2 separate regions of the Homo sapiens genome follow, and region 1 is linked to region 2. Evidence: fine-mapped expression QTL. A gene starts in region 2. The other region holds a variant in brackets. All regions are shown on one strand. Distances are between the middles of the regions.

What was found. PIP is the estimated chance that this variant, and not a neighbour inherited with it, causes the effect.
Region 1: its variant is fine-mapped to the expression of HRCT1 in lung (TOPMed, PIP above 0.99).

The regions. Positions count from the first base shown.
Region 1 is chr9:35,877,588-35,882,963 of GRCh38, reverse strand. No RefSeq gene overlaps it. Among named protein-coding and RNA genes, the nearest start is that of OR13J1, 9.9 kb to the right of the region's middle. The variant A/G (reference allele first, on the strand shown) is at 3,382.
Region 2 is chr9:35,903,988-35,909,363 of GRCh38, reverse strand. HRCT1 (histidine rich carboxyl terminus 1) reads right to left here and starts at 3,162. Exons shown (of 1, transcript NM_001039792.2): 1 at 2,228-3,162. The coding sequence starts at 3,076. The coding sequence ends at 2,729. LOC124902149 (a long non-coding RNA gene) reads left to right here and starts at 3,694. Exons shown (of 3, transcript XR_007061471.1): 1 at 3,694-4,996. RefSeq lists an enhancer at 3,615-4,496.

The DNA of each region.
Region 1 (5,376 bases), 26 kb after region 2:
AAAAATAGAAAAAAAACTCATGCTCGTGGATGGAAAGAATATTGTGAAAATGACCATACTACCAAAGCGACTTACATATTAAATGCAATCCCTGTCAAAATACCAGAGATGCAAGATTTTACTTTCTGGACCAAATTTGGGACATAATTTCTGATTTATAAGTTTACTGATATGAAAAGCCATCCAGATTCGTAAAAGTGAAACTATATTTGAGGGTTTCCCTTCATTGAAAATGACATAAAGGTAATTATAAAGCTTAGAGAAAGGGACAGGTCAGTGAATGGACTGTTGGATTCTGAGAGGGTAGATTCTTTTAACACAGATATGATCTCTTTCCTCAGGGTCTCCTAGCAAAGAGAAACTAACAGAACCCAAGGAGGCAAAACAGATGGTTACATAACTCGGGCACGCAGATTTTATGTCTACCAGATTCCTAGATCTGTGATCCTGCTGCCTGAGCCCTGGAGTCCAGGATTTCACAGCTATTTCAAACCCCATCCCCAAAGGTCACAGAGAAGGGCCTGATGGCCACCAGGGGGAGCCCAGGAGCTGAAGCAGATCAGCTCACCTGAAATCAATCCAGCATCCATGCATGACAAGAATAAAAAACATAAGGAAGAAGAACGGTTTATCCCAGAAATACAAAGATAATTCAACATTAGGAAAAAAAACACATTAATATAAATCACTTTATTAACATATTAAAAGGAGAGGAGCCATATGGTTATGACAAAGTAAAGACCCGAATTGATGGAAAGACAAAAAACAATGTTCTTGGATGAGAAAACTTGATTTTGTAGGGATGTCAATTCCATCCCAAATTAGCCAATAAATTACAAGCAAAATCCCAGGAGAATTTTTGTGAAATGTGACAAGCTGATTGCAAAATTTATCTGGAAAAGAAAATGTGCAAGAATAGCCAAAAAATGATTGAAAAAGGCTGGTAAGAGAGGATTTCGCCTAGCAGATATCAACATAAAGCTACAAATCACTATAAAGCCATAGTAATTAAAACAGTGTGACATGAGGACAGAAAGACAATAAAATTTCTTTAGAACATAACACTAGGTCCAGAAAGAGACTAATAAATTTGTGAGAAATTCGTATATGAGAAAGGTGGCATTTTTTAAATCAATGAGAAAAGAATGACCTCCATAATAAATTTTATTGTGGCAAGTAAATAAGTTTACTTATCCTACCTCACTCACTCAATAAGTAAATTCCAGATAAAATAAAAGTTAAATTGAAAAGTAAAACTTTTAAATCATTAGAAGAAAATACAGAAAGGCGAATGTACTTAAAACCTTGGGGATATTACACAAGAGACAACGAAAAAGAAATTTGCTACCCCAAATAATTAAACTTCTATGTAACAAAAGATATCATACACAAATAAAAAAGGTAACTGACATAAAATGTTTGCCACATATATAATACACAAAGAAATACTATAGAGACTATATAAAGAATTTCTAGAAATCATTATTTTCAAAATTAGAAAAATGAGCATAAAATATGAAGAGATAATCAACAGAAAAAAATTTTAATGGCAAAAAATGACAAATAGAATTATTATTAACATTTTTAGTGATCAGGGAAATGTAAAATAAAACAGCAAGATATCCTTTTTCACCCATTGTAATACAAAATTTAAAAGACTGAGGCCAGGTGAGGTGGCTCAAGCCTGTAATCCCTGAACTTTGGGAGGCTGAAGGGGGAGGATCACTTGAGATCAGGCATTCAAGACCAGCCTAGGCAAATAACAAGACTCCATCTCTAAAAAAAAATTAAAATAATCATCAGGGTGCGCTGGCATGCTCCTGTAGTCCTGCTTACTCGGGAAGCTGAGACATGCGGATCACTCACGCCCAAGAGTTCAAGGTTACAGTGAGCTATGATTGCACCACTGCGCTACAGCCTGGGCAACAAAGCAAAATTCCATCTCTTTAAAAGTTTAATTTAATTTAATTTTAACTTAAAAATAAAAAATAAAAGACTGATAACACCCAGTATCAGTCAGGATATGGAGAAATGGGTACTGTTATATTCTTGGTGGAGATTTAAATTAAGACAACATTTCTGAGGGCAATTTAGGGCATCTTTCAACAATTTAAATAAACATACCTTCAATCCAATAACTTCCTGTCAAAATATCTATCCTAGAGAAGTATCTGTACATGTGCCAAAGAGTCATGTAAAATGATATGATTTGCAGCATTGTTTGCATGGCCAAAGAAAACATGAGATACAACCTAAATGTCTAACAACAGGAAATACTCAAATAAGCTATAATATATTCACACAATAGAATATTACATATAACTTACAAAGAAACAATTATATAAAAATATCTACGGTCGGGCGCGGTGACCCACACCTGTAATCCCAGCACTTTGGGAGGCCGAGGCAGGTGGATCACCTGAGGTCAGGAGTTTGAGACCAGCCTGACCAGCATGGTGAAACCCCGTCTCTACTAAAAATACAAAAATTAGCTCGGTGTGGTGGTGCATGCCTGTGGTTCCAGTTACTTGGGAGGCTGAGGAGAATCGCTTGAACCTGGGAGCCGGAGGTTGCAGTGAGTCGAGATCACGCCACTGCACTCCAGCCTGGGCACCAAGAGTGAAACTCCATTCTCTCTCTCTCAATCTCTCTCTCTCTCTCTCTCTCTATGTATATATATATATGTGTATGTGTGTGTGTGTGTGTGTGTGTATATATATGTATATATGTGTGTATATATATGTATACATATATTATATATGTGCATATACATATGTGTATATATGTATACACATATGTATATATGTGTACATACACATTTACATATATATACACAAGACATGGTATATTGTTAAAAGCAAGCCTCACATATTAAAGAAAGACACAGAAGATTTTTAAAGACCCAAATAAAACTTTTAAAAATAAAAAAATACAATTTTTGAGATTAAAAAAAAATCAAATGGATGAATGCAACATGATATCCTGGATTGGATCCAGGAACAGAAAAAGGATATTTGTGGGAAAACTGGGAAAATTTGAATAAAGCCTGTAGTTTAATTAATAGTGCCAATTATGTTTAGTTAATAGTGCCAATTATGTTTAGTTGTGTCACTGCTAATTTCTGAGTTTTGATGAACATTTCATGGCTATATAAGATGTTCACATTAGGAGAAGTTGGTTGAAAGTTATTCAGGAAATCTACATCCTATCTTTAGAACTCTTCTGCCAATCTAAGATTATTTCAAAATTTAAAACAAATTTCAAATATATTAGATGGAATTAATAGCAGACTAGAACCTACAGCAGAAAATATTAGTAAACTTGATACCATAGCAATATACATTAACCAAAATAAAATACACAAAAATATAAATAAATAAA[A/G]TATCAGTGAGCTTTGGGACTTCAAGTAGCCTAATATAGGTACAACTAGAATCTCAGGAAAAGAAGCAATGGACAGAAAAAAAATGATCAAAATTTTTCTACACTTAAAAAAACCTACAAAATCATAGATCCAAAAACCTCAACAAAGCCCAAGCAGAAGAACAAGAAGACAGCTACAAAATCATAGATCCAAGAATCTCAACAAAGCCCAAGCAGAAGAACATGAAGACAGCTACACCAAGGCATATTATAATACTATTGCTTTAATCAGCGGTAAAGAGAACATCTTAAAAGCAATCATAGAAAAAGACACGTTATATACAGAGGAACAAACAAGAATGACAGCAGTCATTGTCAGAAACAATGCAAGCCAGAAGACAGTAGCGCAATATCTTCAAAATGGTAAAAGGAAAATTAAACTGTCAGAATTCTATACTAAGCAAAATACCTCTCAATACTGAAGTTAAATAAAAATATTTTCAGACATACAAAATTTGAAAGATTTTATTACCAACAGTCCAGATCTATAAGAATGTTAAAAGAAGTCCTTCAGGTGGAAGAAAAATGTTATCAGAAGAAAATACCTATCTATACCAGGCAATAAAGAGCCCTAGAAATGGTGAATATGTGAATAAATATAAAATATTTTTACTCTAATTTTTAAACCTTTTAAAACATAGCTTGGATGTGGCCAATAGGAAGCTAATAATTTTTTTAAAGGAAGGAATATATGGCATAGTTGACTATTGGAAGCAAAAGTAATAAGGTATTATAGAATTTTAACAGATGTGGAATTACAATATATAACAACAATAGCTCAAAACCCAGATGAGGGGAAGTGAAAGGGCATTGTTGCGACATTTATATACTATAGGTGAGGTGGTATTACATTAATTAAAGGTAGATTAAAAGAGGAACAAATAACAGATGGAACAATAGAAAACAAACAGCCAGATGAAATATTTAAATCCAACTATGTCCCTGGTCATTTTTAATGCAATTGGTCTAAGCATCTAAATTAAAGGGCAGAGATTGTCTGATTAAATTTTTAAAGATCCGGCCGGGCACAGTGGCTCACGCCTGTAATCCCAGCACTTTGGGAGGCCGAGGCAGGCAGATCACGAGGTCAGGAGATTGAGACCATCCTGGCCAACATGGTGAAACCCCGTCTTTACCAAAAATACAAAAATTAGCTGGGCCTGGTGGCACGTGCCTGTAATCCCAGCTACTCAAAGGAGGCTGAGGCGGGAGAATGGTGTGAACCCAGGAGGCAGAGCTTGCAGTGAGCCGAGATCACACCACTGCACTCCAGCCTGGCGACATAGCAAGGCTCCATCTCAAAAAAAAAAAAAAAAAAAATTAAAGCTCCAATTCTATATTAATAGCAGACAAAGTAGATATTAGAGCAAAAACATTAACAGGGATAAAGAGGGTCATTTGAAAATGACAAAGATGTCAGTTCATCAAGATAACATAACAGTCCTAAAAGCTTATATATCTAATGACAGAGCCTCAAAATACATAAAGCAAGACCTGATAGAACTGAAAGGAGGAATAGACAAATCTGTAATTGCAGCCAAAGATTTCAACATCCCTGTCTCAGTAGTTGAAAAATAAGTAGACAGAAAATTAGTAAGAATATAGGAGACTTGGACAATACTTTCATCCAACTTAATTGATATTTATAAAACCCTTCACCCAATAACAGCAGAATACCGTGGAAAAAGACAGCTAAGGAAAATCCTCCTGGGGTCAAAACAAACCTCAAAGACTGGCCTCAAAAATACTCCTGCCCAAATTTAATTGGATCAGACTGTGGCACAATGTATTCCCCATCACATGATCAAAAACAATAAAGCAATCAGATGACAATTTGTGGAGCCTAACACTGGCTGTGATACCAGCAGAAGTAGATACTTTTACAAATAGATCAGGAAAAGCAACAGTCAAATGGCTCTGCTAAAACCACTGTTATCCCAGGGTGTGAATGTGCAC
Region 2 (5,376 bases):
CGTCCCGCCATGCGCACCCCAGGCCTTTTCCACCCTCCTCCCTGCCAGGAGGTCAGGGGAATAAGCTAGGCCCAGGCAACTGAGTTAGTCTGCCAGGTGAGAGCCCTTTCACACCCAGCACCTCCTGAGACCCCCACCACTTCCAGAAAGGAGACTGGGCTATTAGCCCCACTTTGTCCATATTCTGGGAAACAGAGTAGTGAGAACAATAACTCCAGGCATGGGACCTCACCAGACATGATCTCATATAACCTCCCCAGCAACCCTGCATAGCGATATAGCCTCCATTTTATAGAAAAAGATCCTATGGTCATAGAAGTTAAATGACCTGCCCCCCATTCTGAATTAGCCATGTTAACAGGCACGAGCAATGGCCGAGGAGGGACCGCCCTCCCTCCACTCCTAGCTCAGTGCACTTTCCAGTTACCATGGGACCACAGAGCGACCATCTGATTCTGCGGTTTTAATGATCTGGGTGCAAAGTGCCAGAAAGGGCAGAGGGCTGGCCCAAGTTCACATAGCCTGGGTCCTTTTCAGTTTCTCCAAGGCCCAAGGGAACTTTCTTTAGTATCAGCATTAGGAAACTGGCACTTTGCACAGAATGGGAGAGCAACTTTTCAGAGCAAACGATAGCCTGTCATATTCTCAATCTGTCCCTTTTCTGAGATGATGAGACCATCTGGGCCCTGGGCTCCTCCTCCACATGGAGCAGGCTGTGGGCCATGACAGGAAGCCAATTCCTTGGATTGTTTGTATTAACTGGGATGACCAGGAGGAAGGAGACGACGGGCTGATCTGCAGGGCCTGTGGTTTCAGGTTGAGTTACCAACATCACCTCCTTAACTGGGGTGATAGAGGGCACCAGGAGACTATGCCTCAAGCTTTAACATTTGTTCCTTTGATTTCTCATCGCCTATTCTTCCTGTGTACACGCAGCCATAGGCCGCCTGCAGATTGTCTGAGTGGTTCCGCATTTTTGAACTGGAATAAAGGGCAATTGCTCAGCGGGTTCTCTCCTGCCCTGCATAGGCTTCCTTTTCCGTTTCCTGCTTTCGGGGAACCTCCTCCCCATCTTTGATTCATCTGTGAAATCAGCCTGGAGATGCCTGGGAAAGGGGCAGGGCTGCAGGGAGCAGGCTGGCAGGAATCCAGGAGGGGGATGGAGGGGGCTGGGCTAGGCAGGGCATGGGAATGGAGAAGGGGGTGGATTTGAAGGACACTGCAGAGAAAATCGACACTGCACGGCAGCCTAGGGTCAACTTTCCCAACCCAGAAACCTCAGGTGGGAGAAATCAGTGTGAATTTGCCTCCCTCTCTCTCTCACTCCCTCCTCCTGCAGCCCTCACAGAGAATCCACTGGGAAATAGAAAGGAAAGAGGACATTCTATTCCAGTGAGTCACCAGGTCCCTGAGTCTCTGGCCTGCTCTCCAGCCCCTCCCCACTGCCTCTCCTGGCCCCCAGTCCTTGTCTTCCCCCAATTCCCACCTCAGCTCACAGGCACAGGCTGAAGGCCTCAGAGCCAGGCTTCCTTCCTCGCTGTGGATCCCACTAGCTGTTCACAGAGCATATTCCAACGAGCCTCCAGGCTTCGGCACGTGGGCATCTCTGTTATCCACCCCATTGCAGAGAAGAGGAAAGTGAGACCCCAGCATTCTCCCAAGGCCATCCAACACCCTGCACCCCAGCACCACAGCCTCCACTTTAAAGAACTCCACTCGCTGCCTCCCAGCCCTCCCACCACACACAGGCACCAGCTGGGGCAGGATGGCTGAAAACGCAAGGCTTGGAGAAGAAACCCTGATCCAATTACCAAGGAAACTGGATTCAAGGCAGCCTGTGGATGGGGCTTCCTCGAGTTTCAGAGCTCAGTCTGCCCTGGACATGGGCTGAAAAAAGTACAGGGGCAGAGCCCTGGGGAGCCAGGCTCGCAGCGGCTCCAACCTTCCTCTCCCCGAGGACTGTCCCGCGGAAGGCCAGAGCCCTGCTGGTGCACACAGGACCTGCTGTGGGCAGGGTTTTGTGCAAACCCTGAATCCTCCCTCAGAGCTCAGACAGAGCCCACCCAATTCTTCCCACTCCACAACCAGCCCCTAAGAACCAGACAGAAGCCGCCTGCTCCAGCCACACGCTTCCCATCAGAGAGGGAGGTCCCAGGGCAATGAGGACACAGGCCAGGCAGCTCCCTCCCTCCCACTATGCTGCAATCAAGAGCCTCTTCACAAAAGCTTCTTAGTGGTTTTTATTTTCTTGGACTAAGGCACCGATGAATTGACTGTGCAGCCTCACACTGCCTTCTCCAAACCAAAAGGACATTCTCAGGGCCTCTCCCAGTGCCCTGCCCGCCAGAGGCCTGCAGCAGCCTGATGAGGAGGTCAAGACGGGCACTTCACATCCACTTGTGTGCTGGCTCTGCCAAGACACGCTTGTCATTTCTGGGGCTCACTGGGAGTCACTGTCACAAGACGGGCTGTCCAGCCCCGAAAGAGCACCCTTGCTCTCCACTCCCCAAACCCTTCAGCACTGCAGACCCAGTGTTCCTCCATTCTCTGCTGCCATAGTACACTGGGGCATGCCATGCAAATGCAGCTGGAGCAAGCCCCAGTCTATTGTTCCCCTCGTTCACCCCAGAGATGCATCCTTCCACATGGAAACATGGGGTCCACTTGTCCTGGGAACAGATGGGAGGGCAGGGGCAGCTGCTGTCCACAGGCACCGGCGACAGCAGCCTCAGCGAGCGTGGCGGGGATGGTGGCGGTGGGGGTGGTGGTGGTGGTGGAGGTGGTGAGGGGTGTGGCGGGGGTGGTGGTGGTGGTGGAGGCCCACATTCGGCACATGAGATACGTGGCCAGGATGACGGTGATGGTGAAAGATTCCCAGGTGGCCCCGCCGCCGGAAGGGCCAAGGCTGGGCCCGGCGGACTCGGTTTCCCCCTGCAGCTGTACGGTTCCTCTCCACGTCACAGTCCTGCCGTCCGTGGAAAAGGCAGGTGGCCAGCAGCAGCAGCAGCAGCAGGACCGCCACAGCAGCACCTGTGATCCATCCCACGAGGGCTGTGCTCCCCAGGAGGCCCAGCATCTGGGAGCCGGACAGTCCCTCTCTGCCCAGCAGCTCCTCACTCCTTTCTCCCCTTCAGCAGCCTCCGCTCAGCCCTCTCAGTCACTGAACTTTGTTGTCTCTGCTGCGGGCTGGAGAGCAGCCAGGGAATGTGGGCGAAGCCTGTTTGGACTTGCAACTGCTGGCCAAGGGTGAGGCCAGGCCGCTGTTAACTCTGAGGAGGCCTGGCAGGGAGGCCAGGTGGAGACAGAGGAGCTGTCAGGCTGGATCTGGTTGAGGGAGGAGCCCTGAGTCTAGAGGAAAGAAACCCTCCTGCTGCCTGGCTCAGTGACCTTCCCTCTCCGCACTTCAGTCTCCTCTCGTAGAGACTGTGTAGAACAGAGATGAACAACACGGGCTTTGGAGCCACGCCACTCACTTGCTCTGAGATTGTGCACAAGTTACTTAACCTCTCTGTCCTGTTTCCTCTTCTGTAAAATGGCTGATAACGGTTCCTTCCTCAGTAGGGTGTTCCGAGGACTAAAGGAGTTGAGATGCGTAAAGCAGCAACACCAGCTCCCGTCATGTTTGCAACTGATATTACTGCAATGGACTCCATGGCTCAGGAGACACTGACATCTGAGAGTCTGTGATTCCCTGTCCTGCAGCCTGCAGAGCCCTCCGGGGCTGAGTCAGGCTCTGTCAGATGAGCCATCCCGAGCTCAATGAGCTTGAGAAGCTCAGGGAGGCACCACAGGCAGATTTTGCCATCCAGGGAGGTCCTCCATCCGGCCTGTTCTGGGAGGCAGGAGGGTCTGGGTGTCCTCCCAAGCTTGCTGGGAGGCAAGAAGGAGGCCACTGAGCTCAGAGAGGGCAGGCACAGCCCAGCCTCCTGGTTCCCAGTTCAACAGTCTCAACTGGCCATAAATGGCATGCTCCTTGCTCTGTCACACCCTCCCTGCCCAGCAGTGATGAGTGCCATTCCTGCCTAGTGGAGCATTTACAGAGCGGCAGGATCTGAGCAGTACTGACTGTCCCTCCAAGCCCACCCGCCAGGCCCAAATCCCCTCTGTTCCTCCTGGGAGGCACCGTCCCATCCTGCTGACAGACCTCAGCAACAGGTGCTCACTCTCTCTCTGGGCAACCCTTTCTGCTGTGGGCATGCTGGGCTGTTCTCCAAGCTCTTCCTCACATGCAGTGGGGCTCCCCAAAGCCCCAGCTCTGTGTCTGGCTCTGCAGGGTCCCTCCAGGCTGAGTCCCCAGCCCCTCCCTCCAGGCTCATCTCCCTACCGCCTGGAGGAATGTCTGCAGACACCGCAAGGCTGGTTCTCTGAGTTCTGGCAGCACCTCCACCCTGTGATGTTGGGCAAACCCCTTGCCCTGATCCAGCCTGTCTCCTCTGCAGAACTCCCGGAGCAAGAGGTGACCTCCAGGGACCCTTCCCCCTCTGACCTCAGTCTGAGGTGAGTTCTCTTAGGGAGGCCTCAAACCCTTAATGAAAACCCTCACCAGATGAAAAGGCTAAACATTCCCTTCAACCAAACTGGGCTCAGGGGGCAGCAGGTCTAATGAATCCTGGCACTTCTTTGGCCCTTGGGGGAGCTACTTGAACTTTTAATGATGCTGGAGTAAGAACTCCTCCTGCAGACTCCTGGGGCCCTGGGAGCCCGGCTGCCTTCCCTAGGGAAGTTAAGGAGGGAAGTCTGTTGTGAGGAGGAGGAGGAGGAAGGCAAACAGGGGATTTTCGTCCTCAGAACTTCTCCAGGAAGACTCCCACCCCACACCAGCCGCTGGCGGCGGGGCAGGACCTTACAACTATGAACTTGAAGAACTTCAGTCAGCTCAAACGGCCCCTTGGAATCACCCAGACTCAGCCTTCACTGACAGATGGAGAAACTGAAGCCAGAGAAGGGAAACACTTGCCTAAGTTCTCCCAGCCTCGTGCGCTAATCTATACAGCAGGTACTCAACAGAGCACCATCCCTGCAGTGAGGGAGCCGTCCAGAGTGACAGCCTGAGATCAGCAGGGCCTTCCACAGAGACAGCGGGAAGATGAGGTGGAGATGTGAATAAACCTGGAGGGCGCAGGGGTTGGGAGTGCCCCCTCACACATACACATACACACGACATCTGTTTCCTTAGGTGCAGGTTCACTCTCCATCTGGGTAGTAGGATCCCAAAGTGAACATTTGTTTAGATGCTTTGGGCACTCCTGGGGGCAGTGAGGGACAGCCATTGAGAATACAGTCCTCCATGACTTAACCCATTTATGCCTAAGGTTGCAATTTTTTGAATTTTTGCAATCAGACCTTGGCAATGACCTTGATCAGTATGATAAAAAT